Homo sapiens: one gene and its partners. The protein of the gene in region 2 purifies or fractionates together with the protein of the main gene of each other region. This does not show direct contact. Each region holds a gene or a part of one and is shown on either strand. Other genes may lie near its edges. The genes, in order: GLUD1, E2F6 and POF1B.

Evidence for each region.
Region 1: the proteins of E2F6 (region 2) and GLUD1 purify together in Homo sapiens (affinity purification with mass spectrometry; one large-scale study listed by BioGRID and IntAct). This does not show direct contact.
Region 3: the proteins of E2F6 (region 2) and POF1B purify together in Homo sapiens (affinity purification with mass spectrometry; 2 studies listed by BioGRID and IntAct, with this or other methods). This does not show direct contact.

What each region holds. Positions count from the first base shown.
Region 1 is NC_000010.11:87,084,712-87,088,367, forward strand, and holds part of GLUD1 (glutamate dehydrogenase 1, mitochondrial isoform a precursor), read right to left. Parts: intron 1-3,656. UniProt on the Homo sapiens protein: Mitochondrial glutamate dehydrogenase that catalyzes the conversion of L-glutamate into alpha-ketoglutarate. Plays a key role in glutamine anaplerosis by producing alpha-ketoglutarate, an important intermediate in the tricarboxylic acid cycle.
Region 2 is NC_000002.12:11,459,538-11,463,193, forward strand, and holds part of E2F6 (transcription factor E2F6), read right to left. Parts: intron 1-3,656. UniProt on the Homo sapiens protein: Inhibitor of E2F-dependent transcription. Binds DNA cooperatively with DP proteins through the E2 recognition site, 5'-TTTC[CG]CGC-3'. Has a preference for the 5'-TTTCCCGC-3' E2F recognition site.
Region 3 is NC_000023.11:85,310,148-85,313,803, forward strand, and holds part of POF1B (protein POF1B), read right to left. Parts: intron 1-3,656. UniProt on the Homo sapiens protein: Plays a key role in the organization of epithelial monolayers by regulating the actin cytoskeleton. May be involved in ovary development.

The DNA of each region.
Region 1 (3,656 bases), on a different chromosome or scaffold from region 2:
TCTCACTTTTCAGGAACTATTTATTCAGTAACCAAGAGTTCTACCAGAAGCACAGAACCACCAGAAAAGCAAAAATGCCTCAGAACAACTCTTAATATTTATAAGTTAACACTCTTGCCACTTACTCATCAGATTATATTTTTTCACTTAATATTAATGTACCTTCTAACCCACAATAATGTAGCGTAACTTAATTTAAAATGAAGAGAGGAAGGTTAGAAGCAGGGAGGAACTCTCAATGACCACCCACAAGTAATGACCACCTGAAATACTACGTCTCAGATAAAAATTCAGACATTCAGCATGGGAAGGAGCACTGCATATAGGAGCTAAGAAAAAGTACACACTTTAGGCTGGGCGTGGTGGCTCACGCGTGTAATCCCAGCACTTTGGGAGGCTGAGGTGGGCAGATCATTTGAGGTAGGAGTTCGAGACCAGCCTGGCCAACATGATGAAACCCTGTCTCTACTAAACACACAACAAAATTAGCTGGGCGTGGTGGTGCACACCTGTAATCCCAGCTACTGGGGAGGCTGAGGCAGGAGAATCGCTTAAACCTGGGAGACCGAGGTTGCAATGAGTGGAGATTGCACCATTGCACTTCAGCCTGGGCGACAGAGAGTGAGACTCCGTCTCCAAAAAAAAAAAAAAAAACCAGAAAAATTATACTTTAATTGCTTTAGCAGCATCAATGTACTGTTTTGTATAAAGTAGGCAAATACCATCTTAGATTTTTAATCCAGTCTAAATCTTTTATTTTAACCTGAATAAATTTTGAAGAGGTAACTAAGCTTTCTGGGAAGCAAATGTTTAGCTGATATTAGAAAAATATAACCTATTGACACATCAAAGAAAAAACGGAAGAATACTTTTTTCATTAAAAATTTAAAATTATAACACATATGTATGTATTTCTATCAAAATTTAAATACAAAAAGAAAGCTGAAGACTCCCTTGACTTCCACTTATGACCCCAGTCTTCTCCTTAGGGGTGACTATTCTTAGCAATGTAAGTGTATATCCTTCCAAATCATGTTCCCTGCAATTATATATGTACATATCCATAAAACATACAGCTTTGTTTTGTGTTATTTAACTTACAGCCTGACAGATGGAAGATTATACATTAAAAGGGGGATTTTGTTAATTTTTCTTGGTAGATTCTTTTATTCTGATCTTGATTAACAGTAACTTAGCTGCACTTTCACACCAAACAGGTCTTGGAATCGGAAATGATGCTAGTTAAAATGGTGAATATAAAGTTGGATTTAGTAAAAGGTAACAATAACTTGTTATTAAAAAGTTTCAAAGGGATAAAGGCTTGAAACCTCAGCTATCCAGTTTCATATAAATTATTTACAAGTCTACGTGATAATTTGAGATGGGTCTTAAGAGAGGCAGAGGAATCCTAGGGAGGGGGAAGTGAGGCATGGACAGGCAGAGGGACTGCACTATTCAAGGGCATGATGGAGAGAAGTACGTGCCTGGATTTCCAATTTCCCTAAGGATAATTTTACACCAGATCTTCTTTATTTTAAAAATCCAATCCTTTTCCTTAATAACCCCATCTGTCCCTGATACCACCATTTTTTTCTACCAGTCTCTCAGGCTAGAAATTTTGTGGTTATCTTTGCCTCTTCTCTCCTTCATCCTGTAAATCCTACCTGTTGGGAATACATTACTGTCCTTTCTTCAAAATGTTTTATCTGTCTTTTCTTTTTCATTCTCTGCTATTAACTATAACTTCATTCTCAGTTCCACTGCTGCCTAGCTTTCTGTGCCCTGCTAGATTCATCATTATTCATCCAACAAACATAAAAGGAAAAAATTGGCCTGGCGCGGTGGCTCACGCCTGTAATCCCAGCACTTTGGGAGGCCGAGGCGGGCGGATCATGAGGTCAGGAGATCAAGACCATCCTGGCTAACATGGTGAAACCCCGTCTCCACTAAAAATACAAAAAAAAAAAAAAATTAGCCAGCGTGGCGGTGGGCGCCTGTAGTCCCAGCTACTCAGGAGGCTGAGGCAGGAGAATGGCATCAACCCAGGAGGCGGAGCTTGCAGTAAGCCAAGATCGCGCCACTGCACTCCAGCCTGGGAGACAGCGAGACTCCGTCTCAAAGAAAAAAAAAAAAAAAAAAAGGAAAAAATTGTTTTTTCTCACACATTTCTGACACCAAATGTGTGGGTTTTCCACACTAAGCAGTTCTCCAGTTCTCTGCAGATACAAACTGGGTGTCCTGCAATTCAGTTATGACACTGACTACCAGGGTTAGCACAGACCCCACAGCTCAAGGGCTCAGTCGCACAAGACTGTTCCCTACTTCAGATGCCAGTTCCAAGTCTTGGGTGCCCAGGGCACCCACACTTCTGTCCAACTTGGCTACCAACCAGGGGGTTCCCATGGCCCCCTCCTCAGGTTCAATAATGTTATAAAGGCTCACAGGACTCAGGGAAACGTTACTTATGTAAAGGATACAAATCAACAGCAACATGAAGAGGTACACAGGGCCATGTCTGGAATGTCCCCACTGCAGGAGCTTCTGTTCCCCTGGAATTTGGAGGGTACCACCCTACCCATACATGGATGCATTCACCAACCTGGAAGCTCTCTGAACTCTCCCCATACTCCAGCCATCAGTTAGGGTTTGTATAGAGGTTCCATTATGAGGGCATGACTGATTGCTGATTAAACTCAATCTTCAGCCCCTTTCCAATCTCCAGAGGTCAAAGGGTGGGACTGAAAGTTCCAAATTTCTAATTATGGCTTGGTCTTTTTGGTGACTAGTCCCCACCTTGAAGCTACCCAGAAGCCCATTAAGAGTGTCCTAGTTAGAACAAAAGATGCTCCTATCACTCAGGAATTTGCGACATTCAGGAGCTCTGTGTTGGGAACCAGGCAAAGAGACCAAATATATTTACTGTCACAAGCCCTTATTTCTCATTATTTACAAATGTAGTTTGTCCTCATGACCCCCTTACACACAGTTCCACTTCCTGCCTTGGGTGAAGCCACCCCCTCTTTATCTGAAATGGCCTTATCCAACTCCTATCCAGCCTTCTCTGTTCCCACATCAAGACTGTCTGTCTGCCAGGCACGGTGGCTCACGCCTGTAATCCCAGCACTTTAGGAGGCCGAGGTGGGCTGATCACATGAGGTCGGGAGTTCGAGACCAGCCTGACCAACATGGCAAAACCCTGTCTCTACTAAATATACAAAAATCAGCTAGGTGAGGTGGTGCATGCCTGTAATCCCAGCTACTTGGTAGGCTGAGGCAGGAAAATTGCTTGAACCTGGTAAGCAGAGGTTGTAGTGAGCCAAGATCGCGCCACTGTATGCCAGCCTGGGCAACAAGAGCAAAACTCTGTTTCAAAAAAAAAACAAACAAAAAAACAAATAAACAAACAAGATTGTCCTTGGTTTCCTTGAACTCCTACTGCAACAACACATGATTTACTTTGTTTTGTTTTTTTTTTTGTCATTTATTGACTGGTTCTAGGAAAGGAAAATGTAGAAATGGAATACTGAGCTTATAGCAAAACAAAAAAGACATAGGGTACAAAGGAGATTTGAATCTGCTCTACTTGGGAGAAATCAATGAAAAAAAATATTCCAAGAAATAAAAAAATTCAACTTTGTTTTTTTAAAAGAACCCTC
Region 2 (3,656 bases):
AACAGTACCATTGCCCCTCAGTGGCAGACATCATATACAGACATATAGATAGAAACATAAGTCCAGGCGCGGTGGCTCATGCCTGTAATCCCAGGACTTTGGGAGGCGGGGTGGGGGGAGGAGATCACAAGGTCAGGAGTTCAAGACCAGCCTGGCCAACATAGTGAAATCCCCGTCTCTACTAAAAATACAAAAAATTAGCTGGGGGTGGTGGTGGGCACCTGTAATAAAAGCTACTTGGGAGGCTGAGGCAGGAGAATCGCTTGAACCCGGGAGGCAGGGGTTGCAGTGAGCTGAGATCGTGCCATTGCACTCCAGCCCAGATGACGGTGCGAGACTCCGTCTCAAAAAAAAAAAAGATGATAAATAGGCAGATTGTTTGCATGCTAGCTGCAAAATGAATGGAGAAGTCAGAGGCTTACAAAATGAAAATCACTCAGGCTGATCTTGTGCCCTGACAGAGTATACAGCTCTCTAGGAACCAGCATCTTCTGGGGCAAGTCAGCATATTTTTTCAAATTCCAAGCTATTTCACCACTGCTCCAAGTCCCCTATTTAAAGACCTATACTTTATTGTGTAGCTTTGAAGAGCTGCTTCAAAGGTGGAAAAAAAAATAAAAGATGAAGTTTAGGGACTAAAATGCTAAGCACTGCCTCCAAGCTGGTTAAACCTTTCTCTATACAGATGTTTCTCTACACCAATTCTGTTTTGGGGAGCAATATTCCTTCAAGAGGTCTTTGGAAAGGTTATTGCATTCTCACCCATTCAAATTTTCCTTATTTTTCAATTATGCAGACCAAGTTCTACCTCCAATCAATGCTATTTTCTCCCTTCTCAGAAGTCCAGATCCTCTGGGACCCTCTTTCCCGTTTGTCCTTGGACAACAACTTCAGATTCTCTGGCCTTTGGACTCTAGGAGTTACACTAGCAGCCTCCCAGGTTCTCATGCTATGGACTTGGACTGAGCCATGCTACCAGCATCCCAAGGTCTCCAGCTTGCAGCCAGCCTATTGTGGGGCTTCTCAGCCTCCAAAATCATGAGCCAATTTCCCTAATAAATTCCCTCTCATATATCTACATGCAATCATGCATCTTCTCAGAATCGTCATTAGGCGATTTTGTTGCGTGAACATCATAGAGTGCTTAAACAAACCTAGATGGTACAGCCCACTACACACCTAGGCTATACAGTATAGCCTATTGCTGCTAGGCCACAAACCTGTAGAGCATGTGACTGACTGAATACTGTAGATAACGGTAACTAACAGAATGGTATTTGTGCATCTAAACATAGAAAAGGTAATGTTTGGTGCTATGACCATTATGATGGCTACAATGTCACCAGGTGATAGAAATTTTTCAGCTCCACTATAATCTTACAGGACCAGAAACCTAATACAGATTTGGTACCAGAAGTGGAGTGAGTCATACTTTGCACCTCACCTTTAGGGGTCTGCTGGGACTTGGGTCTAGTAATAGGTCTAGAAGCAAAGAGGGGTGGCGGGGTGGGTCCTGATGAGAATCAGCACTGTCTTGTCCGGGAACTGTTTCAGAGGAGGCCATTACTATCTCCACAGGCAATGCAGAATTAATCCCCTTAGACAGGGGTGGAAAGGATGATACCACTGTAGGTGGAAATGCTACTGCCCCTCTGGCAAACAAGACTCATCAGAATTTAGGGGCTCAATGTGTCCAGCCTCATCTTCCCACATGATCCCATCCAAACTTGCAGGACCCCACTCTTTCCCAACCAATACCCTCACTTTAACAGTAGATGCTCTGTGAGGCTAAGAGAGTTCAACTTTCTATTTTATTTATTTATTTATTTTTGTGATGGAGTTTCACTCTTGTTGCCCAAGCTGGAGTGCAGTGGCACAATCTCGGCTCACTGCAACCTCCACCTCCTGGGTTCAAGTGATTCTTCTGCCTCAGCCTCCCGAGTAGCTGGGATTACAGGCGCACGTCACCAAGCCTGGCTAATTTTTTGTATTTTTAGTAGAAACGGGGTTTCACCACATTAGCCAGGCTGGTCTCGAAATCCGGACCTCAGGTGATCCACCCGCCTCAGCCTCCCGAAGTGCTGGGATTACAGGCATGAGCCACCATGACTGGCCAAGAGTTCAACTTCCATTGTAATTTGGCCAGTTACATGATGAAGGCTTGTGTTTGATTTTCAGCAATTTCAGCCCCATGGCTACAGGATAGAAGATTCTAACCCAGGGCACACTTAGAAACTTTTAGGTCATTTATGTGGAACTCCAGCCATGAAACTGAATCCCTGAGCTCATCCTTTTCTTTCATCACTTTGTCCAAAGACAATAGGAGCAACCAACCAATGTCATTATAATCCTTGTTTTCCCAAAAATATTTGAAAATATCACATATAGCGTCACTAAATTCTTTGCCTCTTATAAGCAGTGAATTAGAATAAAAAGGCATTTATTTTGCATATCTATAAACAGTTTGTGTCATGGACTTCCAGTGCTCTCTCTACTATTAGAAGTAGAGCTCTTGGCATTTTTAGATTCTAATCAGATTAAAGAATCAATTCCAAAAACCCCAATTAAGGAAACTCATCTTTAATATTCTGTTTCCCAGAACCATTCCTGGTACCAAAATCTGTGTTAGTATTGGTCTGTCTCTCTGGAGAGCCCTGACCAATAGAGTAATAAATTCAATTCTGGATATAGAGTAGTCCACCCTTATCCCTGGGAGCTACATTCCAAGACCCCCAGTGGATGCCTAAAACCGCAAACAGTACCAATCTCTATATATACTATTTTTTCGTATACATACATACATGTGATAACATTTAATTTATAGATCGGGCATAGTAAGAGATTAACAGCTAATAATAAAATACAACAATTATAGCAATAAACTACAATGAAAGTTATGTGAATGTGGTCTCTCTCTCAAAATATCTTATACTGTAGATCTTAGCGACCTCAGAATAAGATTTTTTTTCTTTCCTTACTAAGTCAAGAACTTAGATCTTTTCACTTAAAGGAAGCACTTCATCAATTCTCTTCAGCATACTGGAAGCACTACTGGAAGCATACTGGAAGCACTACTTTTGTGCTTTGGGGCCATTACTGAGAAAATAAGGGCTACTTAACACAAGCACCGTGACAGTTGGTCTGAGAATCAAGAAACAGCTACTAAGCGACTAAGGGCAGGGCGCAGTGACAGCATGGGAACTCTGGACAAAGGAAGATTCAGGTGCTGGGTGGTACTGGACAGCTCAAGATTTCATGACACTACTGAGAATGGCAAGCAGTTTAAAACTAATGAATTATTTCTGGAATTTTCATTTTAATAGTTTGGGGGACCACAGGTTAACTGAAATAAAGAAAAGTGAAACCTCAGATGAGAGGGGACTAATAGGAGTTTGAAACCTAAGTAGGAAGGTCTAGTAGACAGCTGGAAAACCCTGAAGGAGATTTATAGATTTGGGAATTATGACATGGTAACTGAAAATACCAGAACTGTATGTCTAAGATTTCAAGGGATGTATCTGCTGATACTACATGCAAACTAAGTGGTTTTTCCACAGTGAGCTTAGAGTTTTTATCACGTTCTCAAATATTAAGACCACCAATACAGATGGTACCAATATACAGCTGACCCTCAAACAACACAGGTTTGAATTGTG
Region 3 (3,656 bases), on a different chromosome or scaffold from region 2:
GGTCAATTGAAAATCACTCATAATTCCAAGAACAACAAAAATCTCAACCAATAAGAAAAAACACTTAATTGATGACAACATCAAGATAATAGAAATGTTAGAATTATCTGATAAAGTGTATAAAACAACCATCATAAATACTTCAACAAGAAGTTGCAAGGAGACTGTAAAAACACATTGTCTCAATGACAAAATAGAAAGTCTCAGCAAATAAATAGAAGACATAAAGAATACCTAAATGGAAATTTTAGAACTGAAAAGGACAGTAACAAGACAAAGAAACAAAAACCAAACCAAAACAACAAAGCTCTCAAGGAGTGGGCTAAAAAGCAGAATGGAGAGAACAGAGGAAAGAATTAATGAACTTAAAGATAGAATAAAATAAAGTATATAATCTGAATATCAGAAACAAATAGATTAGAAAAAATTAAACAGAGCTTAAGGGTTTGTGGGTGTACACCACATATCTAGCTTTCATGTTCAGAGTCCTGGAAGGAAAGGAGAAAGAGGATGGAGCTGAAAAAATATTCAAAAAAATTATGGCTGAGAAGTTTCCCAAATTAGTAAAACCTGGTAACATACATATTCAAGAAGCTGAGCATATCCCAAACAATATAAACCCAAAGAAATCCATTACCAGACAAATCAGAGTCAAACTTCTTAAAACTAAAGACAAACTAAAAATTTTCAAAGCAGCAAGAAAAACATTAATTATTGGGAATAACAATTCAAATGACAACAGATTTCTCATTACAAATCATGAAGCCCAGAAGGAACTAGGATACTATTTTTTAAGTACTAAAAGAAAATAATTGTCAACTGTAAATTCTATATGCAGTGAAATTATCCTTTAGGAATGGAGGGAAATTCACATTTTCAGATGAGGGAAAATGAAAATAATTTGTTACTAGCAGACCTACCCTTAAAGAATAGCTAAAAGAAGTTGTCTAAAGAGAAGAAAATCATAAAAGAAAGAATTTGGAATATTAAGAAGGAAGATATAGCATTGTAAGCAAAAATATGGTAAATACAATAAGTTTTCCTTCTTTTCTAGAGTTTTCTTTTTTTATTATACTTTAAGTTCTGGGATACATGTGCAGAACGTGCAGGTTTGTTACATAGGTATACACGTGCCATGGTGGTTTCCTGCACCCATCAACCTGTCATCTATCTACATTAGGTATTTCTCCTAATGCTATCCCTCCCCTAGCCCCCCACCCCCTGACAGGCCCCAGTGTGTGATGTTCCCATGTGTTCTCACTGTTCAACTCCCACTTATGAGTGAGAACATGAGGTGTGTGGTTTTCTGTTTCTGTGTCAGTTTGCTGCGAATGATGGTTTCCAGCTTCATCCATGTCCCTGCAAAGGACATGAACTCATCCTTTTTAATGGCTGCATAGTATTCCATGGTGCGTATGTCCCACATTATCTAGTCTATCATTGATGGGCAATTTGGGTTGGTTCCAAGTCTTTGCTATTGTGAATAGTGCTGCAATAAACATATGTGTGCATGTGTATTTATAGTAGAATGATTTATAATCTTTGGGTATATACCCAGTAATGGGATTGCTGAGTCAAATGGTATTTCTAGTTCTAGATCCTTGAGGAAGCGCCACACTGGTTGAACTAATTTACACTCCCACCAATAATCTAAAAGCGTTCCTATTTCTCCACATCCACTCCAGCATCTGTTTTTTCCTGACTTTTTGATGATCGCCATTCTAACTCACGTGAGATGGTATCTCATTGTGGTTTTGATTTGCATTTCTCTAATGACCAGTGATGATGAGCATTTTTTCATGTTTGTTGGCTGCATTAATGTCTTATTTTGAGAAATGTCTGTTCATACCCTTTGGCCACTTTTTGATGGGGTTGTTTGTTTGATTCTTGTAAATTTGTTTAAATTCTTTGTAGATTCTGGGTATTAGCCCTTTGTCAGATGGATAGATTGCAAACATTTTCTCCCATTCTGTAGGGTGCCTGTTCACTCTGATAATAGTTTCTTTTGCTGTGCAGAAGCTCTTTAGTTTAATTAGATCCCATTTGTCAATTTTTGCTTTTGTTGCTATTGCTTTTGGTGTTTTAGTCATGAAGTCTTCCCCATGCCTATGTCCTGAATGGTATTGCCTAGGTTTTCTTCTAGAGTTTTTATGGTTTTAGGTCTTACCTTTAAGTCTTTAATCCATCTTGAGTTAATTTTTGTATAAAGTGTAAGGAAGGGGTCCAGTTTCAGTTTTCAGCATATGGCTAGCCAGTTTTCCCAGCATTATTTATTAAACAGGGAATCTTTTCCCCATTGCTTGTTTTTGTAAGGTTTGTCAAAGATCCAATAGTTGTAAATGTGTGGCATTATTTCTGAGGCCTCTGTTCTGTTCCATTGGTCTATCTCTCTGTTTTGGTACCGGTACCATGCTGTTTTTGTTACTGAAGCCTTGTAGTATAGTTTGAAGTCAGGTAGCATGATGCCTCCAGCTTTGTTCTTTTGGCTTAGGATTGTCTTGGATATATGGGCTCTTTTTTTGGTTCCATATGTAATTTAAAGTATTTTTTCTAATTCTGTGAAGAAAGTCAATGGTAGCTTGATGGGGTTAGCACTGAATCTATAAATTATTTTCAGCTGTATGGCCATTTTCAAGATATCGATTCTTCCTATCCATAACAATGGAATGTTTTTCCATTTGTTTGTGTCCTCTCTTATTTCCTTGAACAGTGGTTTGTAGCTCTCCTTGAAGAAGTCCTTCACATCCCTTATAAGTTATATTCCTAGGTATTTTATTCTCTTTGTAGCAATTGTGAATGTGAGTTCACTCAAGATTTGGCCCTCTGTTTGTCTATTATTGATGTATAGGAATGTTTGTGACTTTTGCACATTGATTTTGTATCTTGAGACTTTGCTGAAGTTGCTTATCAGCTTAAGGAGATTTTGGGTTGAGACGATGGGGTTTTCTAAATATACAATCATGTCGTCTGCAAACAGAGACAATTTGACTTCCTCTCTTGCTATTTGAATCCCCTTTATTTCTTTCACTTGCCTTGTTGCCCTGGCCAGAACTTCCAATACTATGTTGAATAGGAGTAGTGAGAGAGGGCATCCTTGTCTTGTGCCGGTTTTCAAAGACAATGCTTCCAGCTTTTGTCCATTCAGTATGATATTGGCTGTTGGTTTGTCGTAAATAGCTCTTATTATTTTGAGATACATCCCATCAATACCTAGTTTATTGAGAGTTTTTAGCATGAAGCGGTGTTGAATTTTATCAAAGGCCTTTTCTGCCTTTATTGAGATAGTCATGTGGTTTTTGTCATTGATTCTGTTTATGTAATGGATTATGTTTATTGATTTGCATATGTTGAATCAGCCTTGCATTCCAGCGATGAAGCTGACTTGATCATGGTGGATAAGCTTTTTGATATGCTGCTGGATTCAGTTTGCTGTATTTTATTGAGGATTTTTGCATCGACGTTCATCAGGGATATTGGCCTGAAATTTTCCTTTTTTGTTCTGTCTCTGCCAGATTTTGGTATCAGGATGATGCTGGCCTCATAAAACGAGTTAGGGGGGAGTCTCTCTTTTACTATTGTTTGGGATAGTTTCAGAAGGAATGTTACCAGCTCCTCTTTGTACCCCTGGTAGAATTTGGCTGTGAATCCATCTGCTC